Regions from separate parts of the Homo sapiens genome. Here region 1 is linked to region 2. The links come from fine-mapping of genetic effects on gene expression. Tissue or cell type: whole blood. Region 2 holds a variant in brackets; the other region holds the start of a gene. All regions are shown on one strand. Distances are between the middles of the regions.

Region 1 (5,000 bases), 38 kb before region 2:
GCCCGAGAGGATGCGTGCACCCCGGAAGTCAAAGGGGTACTGGGTCAGTGTGTGAGTCACTGCCATGAGCACACTGGTCGAGGCCTCTGGATTGGTCAGGCTGCAAAACACAGAGAACTCCAAGAGGCCTTCTCCCCAGGTGGCTGTGAGCCTGCTGTAGGGGTGCTCGGAGTCCGCCCTGCAAGGGGTCACAGCCAAAGGCCATCATGGGGACAGGGCCAGGGCACAGGCACACTCACTTGAGCAGGCGCATACCCGCTGTGGCTCCCAGGTAGAGGGGTGTGCCCGCGTGTCTCTCTTTGGGCACATCCTGAAGCGCCTGTTCGAGGCATCCAACAAGACTCTGGCTGGCCCCAGAAGGGTTGTCTGCATAGCTGGAGATGCCCCCACCTAGAGGGAGGCAGAGAGATGAGCCTATGCCTCACGGGCAGCCCCTAGGTGGGCCGTAGGCCAGGAGAGTGAGGGTGGGGGTGGGGGCCGTGGGCTCCCAGACCAGGTGGCACACCTTCCCTGCTTAAGCCCCCAGAAACGCCCAGGTTGGAGACAAAGGGGCCCAGGTGCCACCCGGAGACCAAGGCTGCTGCCTGCTGAGAGGGTGTGGGTGCAGGTGCTAGGACAAAGCCCTGGGCATGGTCAACCCAGGTTGGCCTCCTGAGGCCTGCCTGGGTGTGTCCGCCAGGCCCCCAGACCTCCTCCTGCTCCATCTGGGGCACAGAAGCCAATACTGGGCCCGGCGAGGCTCAAACCTCCCCACCTGCTGCCTAGGCTTCCTTTCTAGAATGCAAACGACTCCTGGCCCCACTCAGGCGCAGGGGCACCAGCCTCTCTCTTTCCAGGGCTTCTGCCTGGAGTGAGCCCCACCCAACACTAAGCAGAAGGACCTGCACTGGCTAAGGCTGGAGAGGGTCCCAGAGACCCTGCAGTGAGTGGGCGTCCTGGCTGGGCTGGGCTGGGCCTCACCTGGAACATCACAGGAGCTGTGCTGGCCCACAATGCCTGTGTCGTTCTCCTTGTCTGCCGGCCACTTGTAGATAAACATGGACGTGTGTGAAGAACCAGCGTCCAGGACGATGCCATACTGCGGGGGAGGGGGAGGGAGTCAGCCTGGGGTGTCCGGGGGCCCTGACACCCTGACACCAAACGTGAAGTTGGGTTCCTCCAGTTTGCCACCGCTCCCCCCCCCACCCAGTCATGTGCCAAGCCTCATGCTGAAGCTCAGAGGAGGCCAGGGCCTCCTCTGAGGCCGTGGTTGGAAGGAGAACAGGGAGGTGGTGGGGAGGTGACTCTTCCCTCCTGACTACCTGAAGCCAGCATGCCAGGGTCTGGGCAGCAGCCTTCCTGGCAAGGGCAGACTGAGGGACTGAGTCAGGGACAGAGGGACAGAGGGTCCCCAGGGACTTTTCCCTGGGGCACAAGTTTCCCAGGCTCAGGGAGAGGAAGCTCCTCTGCAAGAGGAGCTCCCTAGAGTCCCTCTTCCTTCCTCCCCTCTTCCTTCCTCCTCTGTCTCCTTCCAGCTCCTCTGACGGCAGCCCAACCTGAGGATGCAGGAGGCAGGGCCCCAGGTGAAGAAGGTCCACCGAGGCTGGCCGTGGGCCTCAGAGCCAGGTCAGCTCTAAAGACACTCTCCCTAGGCCTCCAAGCCAGGGCCAGAGAGAGAGGCTGGCCCTGCCTTGTTGGGGGTGCTGGGTGGGCCTTCCTGCAGACCTGAGTGGCACGAGCTTGTAAATGCCCTTTTCCAGCTCCTGCCCCAGCATCCTGGATCCACCTGGAAAGCTGGGGACCAGCCTCCCAGGCCCGGGCGCCAATTCCAGCCTCCGAGAGGGCCGCACCAGTCCATCCCGACCAAGGCTTCCCCAGAGCCCAGAGCATCAACAGGTCAGCGCGTGCACCGCCACATGGCCGTCCTGCAGGGCCGCAGAGCTCCCTGCTTCTGACTCCCCATCAGGCTGGGGGACTTGGCTCTCCACCCCACCCCCCTACAAGCCCAATAAAGGGTTAAAGGGGCCGACCAGGAGGTCCCTGGGCCTGCTGGAGTGGAGATCCAGGCTAGCCTGCTCCAACCTTTTGAGGACCGGCCAGGGCTGCTCCGGTCAAGCCCTCCTGTCTTTCTGGGCCACTCTCGTGTCCTGGCGGGGGCCCTGGGTCCTGGGGCTTGTGGATCCCCATCTGGGCTGAATACCCAGTCGATGTGGCTCTAACCGCACCCTCCGGGGCGGCGGCACAGGGCAGAAGTGGCCCGGAGTGCCCCTGGGGGCCCGCACAGGCCTGGGGGCGGGCGTCCGGCAGCACCCAGGGGGCATCGCTGGGCTATCCCGGGAGCGGGGACACAGCCCCTGGGCTGCGTTGACGGACTCGGCGGCGGGCGCGGAACTCCCGGGACTTGTTCCTTCAGCACCGCGTCGCCCTGGAAGCGCCACCGCCCCCCGCCCCCTCCGCGTACCCGGTCGGGGAGCGCAGAGCGCGGAACCCGGGACCCCACCCAGCCCGCCAGGAGCAGAGCACGGTGGGGGTCCCGGGCTGATCCTGCTCAGGTTCCCAGCCGCACCCCCTCCCCGGCTCCAAGCCCGGCCCGCTGCTCCCCAGACGTGCGCTGGGTGCCCGGGCGCGCACCTTGAGGGCGGGCGGCTCCCGGACGTCGCGGGTGGGGACGCACAGCAGTAGGAGGCCGGCGAGGCCCGCGGCGGCCAGCAGCAGCGGCGGCAGCAGTGACCGCACCTTCCCGGCCATGGGCGGGCGGGCGCGCGGGAGGACGATGCGTGGACCCGGAGAGTGCGGGGAGCCGGAGGCGGAGGCGGGCGGGGCCGCGGGACCGCGGGGTAGGGGCCCCGGGGCGGGACGAGGGGCGGGAGGCCGGGCGGGCCCGCCCATCACCGGCCACGCCCACGGGCGGACAGGTTTCGCCTCCGCTCCCAAGCTTCCGCCGTCCGGCCCGCGCAGGTGAGAGACGCGGGCGCGGCTGAGTCACCAGCACCGCCCCCCGGCTCCCGGGTCTGAGCCCGGGCGCCCCGCGGCTATGGCCCACCTTCCCCTTCCCGCCCACTCAGCAAGGGGATCCCCCGGCCGTGGAGGCAGGAGACCTGGCGTGGGGGTGGGCGGGCGAGGCTGGCTCGGAGGGTCCTGTGCTGGAGAGCCGCGCTTTTCCCGGGCCCGGGAAAGGAGGCCAGACTCGCTTGCAGGAATGAGGCACTGTCGGCTGCGGAGCCACGCGGGGCCCGGGCTGGGGACTCAGGAGGAAGCCGAGGGTCAGCACCTGTTTGTGGAGCAGGGCCCTGAGCGCCAACTCCCAGGGCTGGTGAGGACCAGGCTGGCCTGCGGGATGCCCTCCCGGCCAGCAAGGATCCGCCAGCCTGCGGCGCTGAGCCAGCGCAGGTCAGCTCCAGAGACACGCAGCTGACCCAGGCCAGAACTACCCTTGAGGCCCAGTCAGATCCACCTCACCTGGGCCCTGTACTGAGGTGAAGGTGAGGACGCAGGAACGGGGAAGGGGAGGGACGGCCCAGGTCACACCGAGCCGAGAAACAGGAGAAGCAGCACAGACCGGGCCAAAGGTCCATACCTCCCAGCCCAGGGCCTCAGCCGCGCCTGCTGCCCCCTCGGCCTGAGGGGAACAGAGGCTTGGGCTGCGGAGGCCAGAGGAGGCTTCCCCAGGACGGAAACAGGTGGGGCCTCTACGTGGCCTGAAAGGCAAGGAAGAGGGTCCCCAGGCCAAGCTTGGGGTGCGGGTCAGCAACAGGCTTCTGGGGACGGCTGGGGCAGGCGAAGCGCAGCTGGCCCCAGACGCAAGCCCTGCTCCTCCGTCCCACGACATGGCTGGCCTTTCGGCTCTGCAGCCTCACAGGCCCCGCATCCCAGCCCGGCCAGGGGCCACCCCCTTTGCGCCTGCTGCAAAGTGGGAATTCTTGTCCCAATAATTCCAGCCACACAGCGTCAGGGAGCCACGAGGCAAGGCCACCAGGGAGTGCAGGCTGCTGGGGCCCAAAGGGCAGCCCCATGGGGCAGGGTCCAGACCATGCCCGGCCTTCTGGAACGGGCAGTGACAATTGTGCTGGGATTGCTGCCTGGGCTGAGGGTCTGGCGCCACAGGCCCAGTAAAGGCATCTTTCTTCCAGCTCAGGACCCCAAAGGGAGGGGTGGGAACCCTGGGAAGCCTCTCTGCTGCCTCAGCCTCACAGCCCAGCCTGGCGGGGCTCCAGCAGGCAATCTCTGGGTGTTGCCGGTGCTAAGCTCCAGGCCCCAGGCCCCAGTTTCCCCCCACACACCCCAGGCCTTTCTTCCACCCCTGACCGCCCAGAGGAGGGAGAGGCACGCACAGTGCACATCATGCCTGAAAAGGAAGGAACAAAGGCCGCCCAGAGGCAGGGTGCTGCGACCCCCACTGGCCTGCGGTACCCCGCTTCCCTCCAGGCCCAGCGGGGCTTCCTGGTGTTCTGGACTCTTTTCATGGACAAAAAGCTCAAGCCAGGGAGTGGGAGGTCTGCCAGGCCTGAGAGGATGGGGAGGGAGAGGGGAGCTGGACTCTGCCCCGGGGAGACAGGCTCATGGCCGAGTGCCCAGCTTCGCCTGCGGAGGGAGAGGCAGGGAGCCCAGAGCGGCCAGGACAAAGGCTGAGGCTGAGCTCTCTTTGAGACGGAGTGAGGGCGGGGGAACGCCCCTTCCTGGCATGGACTCAGGGACCCTGGAAGGCAGACTTGGGAGAGCGTCAGAGGGAAGCTGGCAGGAGCTGAAGGGGTGGAGGGGCCTCTGGGTGGGGCAGCTCTCGGCTTCCAGGACCCTCTCGGGGATGGGGCCTCCAGATGTGCTGCACATGACCCCGGCTGAGCTGGGAACATGCGGATGCAGAGAGGTTAGGGGAGAACCCCTGGGGGAGGGAACTCGGAGCCTCCCGCCCACGCAGGGCTCAGACCTCCCAGGGAGGGGGGCTTTCCTGAGGCCTGCTGACATCTTGGCTGCCCTGCCTCAGTCTCCACATCAGAAGCTTGTGCTGTGTGGCTCACGTCTGT
Region 2 (7,925 bases):
TCTGCTTTTCTGTGGACTCCTCTTCTACATCAACTTGGCTGACCATTGGAAAGGTATCAGAAACACGTGTACTTGAAAACGATATCTGTGTTGAGGGTTGATTGGGCAGAAGCAATCTTGCATTCTACCTTAAACAGCTCCAGGAGGCATATATGGCAACGAATTGGCAAGAAATCAAGATAAAGAGAAAGGTAGAGCTGTATGTAACCACCTGGCTAGAACACAGATGTTAATTTGATGCTGTCTGACTACTTTCTAGGTCTCTGGTGTAAGTACTGATATGTCCAGCCTCCCTTATAGAGTAAGTCAGCTGGTGGGCTTGAACACTCAGCCTAAATAACCACACAAATTTCGTAGCACTCATTAGCGTGTGTTTGGAAAAGACCAGGCAGAGTTCTGGTGAGGATGTGGAGAATCTCTTCTCACTTGGTCTAAGATGCTTCTCTTTGGAGCAAAGCTAAAGGGCTCCTGCCCACCTGCCACATGCTGAACGTCCCTGAATGGAAAATAGGAAGGCAAAAGATGTGGGGTTCTGTGTTATGGACAAGGACACAAACTGCCAAGTGTTTTGAAAAAGATTTCATTCCCTTGGGACATTGTTGAATTCATTTCAGTGACTATCAGGTATCATAATGTTGATTTGTAATGGATAGTGCCTGCCAAGTGTTTTTATAAAGCAGTTTAAATCTCTTGTAGGCCTTGTGGCATATTTGAAATAAAATAGCTTCTGTTATTCAGCTCTGGCTTTCAGGCTAGAGGAAGAGCAGAAGATGAGGCCAGAAATTGCTGGGTTAAAACCAGCAAATCCACCCGTCTTACCAGCTCCTCAGAAGGCGGACACCGACCCTGAGAACTTACCTGAGATTTCGTCACAGGTACTTTGAGCAAATGGTGTGGGGTTATAACTGGGGTTCAATCCAGAGGCATTTCAAACCACTGAAGATTGAGAAGAATTATTTTCCTTTACCATTTATTACCACGTGTTTACCTCTCTCTCGTTTTGGACTGGTCGGATAATACTTGGGGAAAGAGAGGCGTAGTCTTTGCTTCATTCTTTTTGAAGACCAGCCATGGCCAGTTCCGGTTTTACTTCTGACTGTGCAGTGTTGAATAAGACAGACCTGTTTCCTCTCAAGAGGCCACAGCTGGTAGGAGAGGCTGGTGAGAAGCCAGGCACAGATGGGCAGAGGCAGATGGCACATGGTGTACATCCTATGTGGAAAAGAGCAGGGCGCTGGTGAAGAACAGTGGCTGGTCCTGAGGGTTCAGGGGAGGCCGTGGCACTGAGGGCAAGATCTGAGGGCTGAGAAGCTGCTGGCACCGGGCAAGGTGGGGAGAGGCAGACTTGAGCCTGAGTGAAACTGCCTGAGGCAAGGAGGACCTTGGCATATGCGGGAAGGTGAAATTCCCAGGGCTGGGAGAGGGAGCAGGGGTTGGCTCAGTCCAGCTGTGGTCCTGCAGGTCCTGGAGGCAGCATGGAGGGTCCAGTTGATGTATGCGGGAAGATTTTGGCGTGGACTGGAGGTCTGAGATGTTTACTGTGAAACTGCTCTGGCTGGGTGGAGACACAGTGGAGGGCAGGAGGCCAGGAGAGCTGCCTGGCCGTGGGAAAAGCTGAGTGGGGGGAGGAGTGCTCCGCAGGAGTGGGCCTTGGGAGAAGGAGGGTGAGTCCCCGGGTGGAGGGGCCAGCAAAGGCTGTGCAGGCTCTGGCTTGGGGACACTGAGGAGCTCCGTTTTGGATCTGCCCACTGTGAGATGTCTGGGAGGCGCCATGGAGACCTTGGTGGGCAGGTGGTGCCAGGATCAGAGTCTGCCAGGGGAGACAGGTTTTAGGAGTCCCTAGGTATAGGTGGTTTGTGTCCTCTGGAAACGTTGGAAGAAGGGGCCAGGCCTAGTCCTGGGCACCACCAGGCTGAGAAGATTGGGGTCAGGGAGGAGGGCAGGGGGAGTGGAGACTGGGGATGGGTCAGGAGGCAGCTGGAGAACCAGGAAAACGTCCTGTCAGTGAAGGTTTGGTTCAGGAAGAACAGCCAAATCCCCGACACCGTTGAGAACACCAGGGTGGTGCTGACTCTGGTGTGGCTGCTCGGAACCCTTAGAAGGCCCTTAGGGTGTTAGTTACTGTTGTTGGTACATCTGTGATTGTGTCTAGCAGGTGTGGGAGTGCCTTGGGAGCTTCACCTGTGGCCAGAGTCCTCAGCGCCAGGTGGACTTCCCTGCAGGGCTGTGACAGGGACAGACAGCGCTTTCTAACAGTGGCCTTGGGAGTGGTAACCTGCCGAGGAACAGCTCCTGGGCTGGGGAGCTGGAGGCAGGCTGCTGCCCACTGGCTAAGGATCTCAGCAAGAGGGGCATTGGGGCATTGGCCCCCATGAGCTTGGGCCACCCTCAGACTGCCGTGGGGGTGTTTTGATTTTTTTTTTTTTCGAGGCGGAATCTCACTCTGTCGCCCAGGCTGGAGTGCAGTGGTGTGATCTCAGCTCACTGCAACCTCCGCCTCCCGGGTTCAAGTGATTCTCCTGCCTCAGCTTCCCGAGTAGCTGGGATTACAGGCGCCCGACACCACGCACAGCTAACGTTTGTATTTTTAATAGAGACGTGTTTCACTATGTTGGTCAGGCTGGTCTCGAACTCCTGACCTCTTGATCTGCCCACCTCAGCCCCCCAAAGTGCTGGGATTACAGACATGAGCCACCATGCCCGGCCCTTTGATTTCTTTAACAAGAAAATGTGTCCTTTTAAAATTTCTATAAGCTCAATAGAGAGGGGATGGACAGTACCAAAAAGCAGAAGGAAGCAAACCCACATTCTCCTTTCAAAGGCAGCATTCCTGTCGCTGAGCAGCTTCTCCAAGGGTGGTCTAGCCGGGCAGAGGGTGTAGGGTGGGAATTGGCCCCTAGAAGGTGCCGTGCCTGATGGGAGAGTCCTGCTCTTGATTGGCCATGGGGCCACTGCTCCACACTCTTCGGTGTGAGGATTTCTGCCTTTGACCAAGGTCTTTGTCTACAAATTGAATTTTCCTGACTGGAAAGCCGACAGGTGCTTCCTTTCCTTCTTTGGTCCTTCGTCTCCTTTGCATATGGAGTATCGTAACTGCCTGAGAGCAGACTGTGGTATTTTTTCCATTGAAAGATGTGTTTCCACCACTCACAAGTGACCCATAAGCCAGCACCTAGTGTCCAGGAGCAGCTGGGGTGGTGGATGGTGAATATTTCTGTCTTTCTCAAGCATTGACTTGGAGACATCCTGCCCTCCAGGGATCACTTGCACTGCCTCTCCTGTTCAGACCCTGGCACTTGTCTAGACCTGGTTAGGGATGAGGCTGTGTTTAGGCCAGATCCCTTTCTGTTAACGTTTTACTTTGGTTGAGTTCAAATTTTTTTGTTTTATATTTTTTTTTTTTTTTTTTTTTTTGAGACAGAGTCTTCCTCTGTTTCCCAGGCTGCAGTGCAGTAGCGCAATCTCAGGTCACTGCAAGCTCCACCTCCCGGGTTCATGCCATTCTCCTGCCTTGGCCTCCTGAGTAGCTAGGACTACAGGTGCCCGCCACCACGCCCGGCTAATTTTTTGTATTTTTAGTAGAGACGGGGTTTCACCGTGTTAGCCAGGATGGTCTTGATCACCTGACCTCGTGATCTGCCCGCCTCAGCCTCCCAAAGTGCTGGGATTACAGGCGTGAGCCACCACGCCCGGCCTTAAAATTATTTAATAGAGATGAGGTCTCACTATGTTGCCCAGACTGGTCTCCAACTCCTGAGCTGAAGTGATCCTCCTGCCTCAGTCTCCTGAAATGCTGGGATCACAGGCATAAGACACCACACCTGTCTGATTTCAAATGTTATAGGGGCTTAGGAGAGAAAATGGGAACATTGAGAAGGTATAAAGGGGAATACACAGCCACACATTACCCCTGTTCCCAGTCCAACTCTTGAAACACTTGGTATATGTCTTTCAATTTATGTGGCTGGGTATGGTGGCTCACACCTGTAATCCCAGCACTTTCAGAGGCCAAGGCAGGCAGATTGCTTACGCCCAGTCTGGGTAACACGGTGAGACCACCATCTCTACCAAAAAAAAAAAAAATTAGCCAGGCACGACATGCCTATAGTCCCAGCTACCTGGGAGGCTGAGGTGGGAGGATCGCTTAAGCCAGGGAGGTTGAGGCTACAGTGAGCTATGATCCAGCCTGGATGACAGGGAGACCCTGTCTCAAAAAATAATAATAATAATTTTATTTGGATAAACACATGTATACATCATTGAGGGTTAGGGGCTGGATTGGTATTTGGATACACACGTGTGTACGTAATTGAGGGTTAGGGGCTGGATTGGTCCCTGTTTCTTTTTTTATGCACATGAGAATATTCCCTTTCATACAGATTTTTATAGCTCTTCTCCATTGCTTGGATAAACCATCATTTTCTAAATCATTTATCTGTTGATTCTTTCTTCATTTGTAAATGTCCCCATTACATCCGTTGTACGTAAACTATTAAGAGTTAAAGGTTGTGAAGATTTTGATGTCCTATGACGTGTATCATGACAAACTATTCCCGAATTTGCTTCCCCTGCTACGGTGCTGAGAGTAGCAGTCAGTGGTGCCATGGCAGCACTGGGCATTCTCGTGTCGGCAATGTTTCCAATGCAACAGTCAGAAACTGGCGCCTGCTTTTCGTGGATGCTTGTGTGTCTTGCCTAGAAGCAGGGACACTTACAGGAGGGGAGAGGTGATGAACGGCCCTATGTGCTCCCATCCCGGAAGCTGTC[C/T]GTGTCCTTTGATGAGTCTTAGGACTTTTATATTTTCCTTTATTATTGGTATTCCCTTTATTATTAGTATGACTGTTGTGAGTTAGAATATTTCATCCTTTACCAAGTATGCTTCTTATGACTTCATCCGGCTTAGAAATTAGTTTTAGAGAACTTTGCTATATAGTAGCAGTAATCAATTAGAAAATGTTATTGAAAAGAGATCTCAGGAGGTTGCAGTGGCTCACACCTGTAGTCCCAGCACTTTGGGAGGCCGAGGCAGGCGGATCACTTGAGGTTTGAGGTCAGGAGTTTGAGACCAGCCTGGCCAACATGGTGAAACCCCATCTCTACTAAAAATACACAAATTAGCCAGGCGTGGTGGTGCGCACCTGTAATCCCAGCTACTCAGCAGGCTGAGGCCTGAACTGGGAGGTGGAGGCTGCAGCAAGCGGAGTTCGCACCACTGCATTCCAGCCTGGGTGATAGTGAGACTCAGTCTCGAAAAAGAAAAGAAAAGTGATCTCCATCACAATCACAAGAAAAGAATGCCACCAAGTCCGTAGGAGTAATCCTGATACTAAAATATATAAAGTCAGTATAAATAAAAGTACAACACTCAAGGTATTTGAAAAGACCTAAATAAGTAGACATTTTATTCTTCTGCTGTGAAGATTTAAGCAGTGGCTCACGCCTGTAATCCCAACACTTTGGGAGGCTGAAGCGGGTGGATCACAAGGTCAGGAGATTGAGACCATCCTGGCTAACACAGTGAAACCCCGTCTCTACTAAAAATACAAAAACAAAATTAGCCGGGCGTGGTGGCAGGCACCTATAGTCCCAGCTACTCGGGAGGCTGAGGCAGGAGAATGGCGTGAACCTGGGAGGCGGAGGTTGCAGTGAGCCGAGATCGCGCCACTGCACTCCAGCCTGGGCGACAGAGCAAGACTCTGTCTCAAAAAAAAGAGAAAAGATTTAAGTTCTCCCTAAATTCATCTGTAAATCCATTGACTCCCTATCAAAATTCCAACCTCTGTTTTTAAAGATGATTTTAAAATTCATATGGAAAGAAAATTTGGGAGTAAAACTCAGATGAACTTCCCTACAAGATCATAAAACTGTGATCATTGAACCCATGGTGATTTTTTTTTTTTTTGAGACAGAGTCTCACTCTGTTGCCCAGGCTGGAGTGCAGTGGCACAATCTCCACTCACTGCAACCTCCACGTCTCGGGTTCAAGTGATTCTCCTGCCTCAGCCTCCCAAGTAGCTGGGATTACAGGGATGTGCCACCACGCCCGGCTAACTTTTTGATTTTTTGTAGAGGTGGGGTCTCACTTTGTTACCCAGGCTGGTCTGGAACTCCTGGGCTCAGGTGATCCTCCTGCCTCGGCCTCCCAAAGTGCTAGGATTACAGATGTGAGCCACTGCACCTGACCCTCGTAACGGTGATTTTTAAGACTAGGTGATCTTAGTGACATAATTCTAATAGTTTGTTCCGACCTTCCACTGTGGACTCAATAGCAGGGAGATGAAGAGGACAGTGATTGCATGACCTGGTGGAGAAGAGACTAGAGAAACACAGTGGAACTAGTGGCTCACATCTGTCATCCCAGCACTTTGAGAGGCCGAGGCAGGCAGATTGCTTGAATGCAGGAGTTCGAGACCAGCCTGAGCAACATAGTGAGACCCCATCTCTATTAAAAAAAAAAACAGGCTGGGGCCAGGCATAGTGGCTCATGCCTGTAATCCCAGCGCTTTGGGAGGCTGAGACGGGTGGATTGCTTGAGACCAGGAGTTCAAAACCAGCCTGGCCAACATGGTGAAATCCTGTCTCTACTAACAATACAAAAAATTAACCTGGAGTGGTGGCGGGCGCCTGTAATCCCAGCTACTCAGGAGTCTGAGGCAGGAGAATCACTTGAACCCAGGAGGCAGAGGTTGCAGTGAGCCAAGATCACGCCACTGCACTCCTGCCTGGGCAACAAGAGTAAAACTCTGTCTCAAAAAACAAACAAACAAAAAAAACAGGCTGGGCATGGTGGCTCATGCCTGTAATCCCAGCACTTTGGGAGGCTGAGGTGGGTAGATCACCTGAGGTCAGGAGTTCGAGACCAGCCTGGCAAACATGGTAAAACCCCATTTCTACTAAAGATACAAAAATTAGCCAGGTGTGGTGACACGCGCCTGTAATCCCAGCTACTTGGGAGGCTGAGGCAGGAGAATCGTTTGAACCCAGGAGGTGGAGGTTGCAGTGAGCCAAGATTGCACCATTGCACTCCGGCCTGGGTGACAAAACAAGACTCTGACTGGGATTACAGGCGTGCGCCACCACGCCTGGCTAATTGTTCGTAATTTTAGTAGAGATGGTGTTTCACCATGTTGCCCAGGTTGGTCTTGAACTCCTGACCTCAGGTGATCCACCTGCCTCCCAAAGTGCTGGGATTACAGACGTGAGCCACCGTGCCCAGCCATAAGTAAGCATTCTTTCCTTTTTTAAAAAAAAAAAAAGTGGAGCAATCTAAATATCCATCAGTAAAGAAGTACAAAATTATGGCTTGTGCCGGGCATGTTGGCTGCAACCTGTCATCCCAGCACTTTGGGAAGCCAAGGCAGGAGGAATTCGTGAGGCCAGGAGTTTAAGACCAGCCTGGGCAACATAAGGAGACCCTGTCTCTATAGTAATAATAATAATAAAAATTAAGGTTTGGTAATACCACAGAAAACTGAGGCCATAGGAGAGAATGGATTTGCCTCTAGACTCACGTAGGAGGACCTAAGCCTCAGTCCGTGACACGGTCTGCAGCTTTCCCACGCTCCTGTTCACGTGGGGAAGGGAGCAGAGGACGGGGCTCTGTGCCTGCAGGTGTGGAAACAGGGAACAGGGTGGTGGGGGCTGGCTAGAAGGCCCGCATCACACAGCAGGGGGCGCCTGGCAAGGGGAACCCAGCTCCATATGTCATCGGAAGCTTTGTGCTTTGTAGTGAGGATGTGGGTGCCTGCCTCACTTTGCAGATGACTGTGCGGGAGGCCTGGGGACCCAGAGGTGTTGCTGGAGCTGGTGTTTACTGCAGCCCTTTGTTATTAACGCTTTAGGACCTGTGAGAGTTTGGAAATATTCCCACCGTGGGAGGGGCTTAAGCGTTTTGTCTGGGGCCGTTTAGCCAGTCGGCAGTGTCC

What was found. PIP is the estimated chance that this variant, and not a neighbour inherited with it, causes the effect.
Region 1: ENTPD2 starts here. The variant in region 2 is the best candidate, but not a certain one, in a credible set for the expression of ENTPD2 in whole blood (INTERVAL, PIP 0.67).

The regions. Positions count from the first base shown.
Region 1 is chr9:137,051,271-137,056,270 of GRCh38, forward strand. ENTPD2 (ectonucleoside triphosphate diphosphohydrolase 2) reads right to left here and starts at 2,791. Exons shown (of 9, transcript NM_203468.3): 1 at 2,611-2,791; 2 at 961-1,078; 3 at 240-390; 4 at 1-100. The coding sequence starts at 2,727. It overlaps LOC105376327 (a long non-coding RNA gene), which reads left to right and starts at 1,075. Exons shown (of 2, transcript XR_930455.2): 1 at 1,075-1,605; 2 at 1,740-2,105. RefSeq lists silencers at 2,777-2,846, 2,947-3,026.
Region 2 is chr9:137,088,131-137,096,055 of GRCh38, forward strand. It overlaps MAN1B1 (mannosidase alpha class 1B member 1), which reads left to right. Exons shown (of 13, transcript NM_016219.5): 2 at 1-53; 3 at 739-875. It overlaps LOC124902338 (small nucleolar RNA SNORD62), which reads left to right and starts at 6,215; the gene lies at 6,215-6,300. RefSeq lists an enhancer at 7,858-7,925. The variant C/T (reference allele first, on the strand shown) is at 4,768.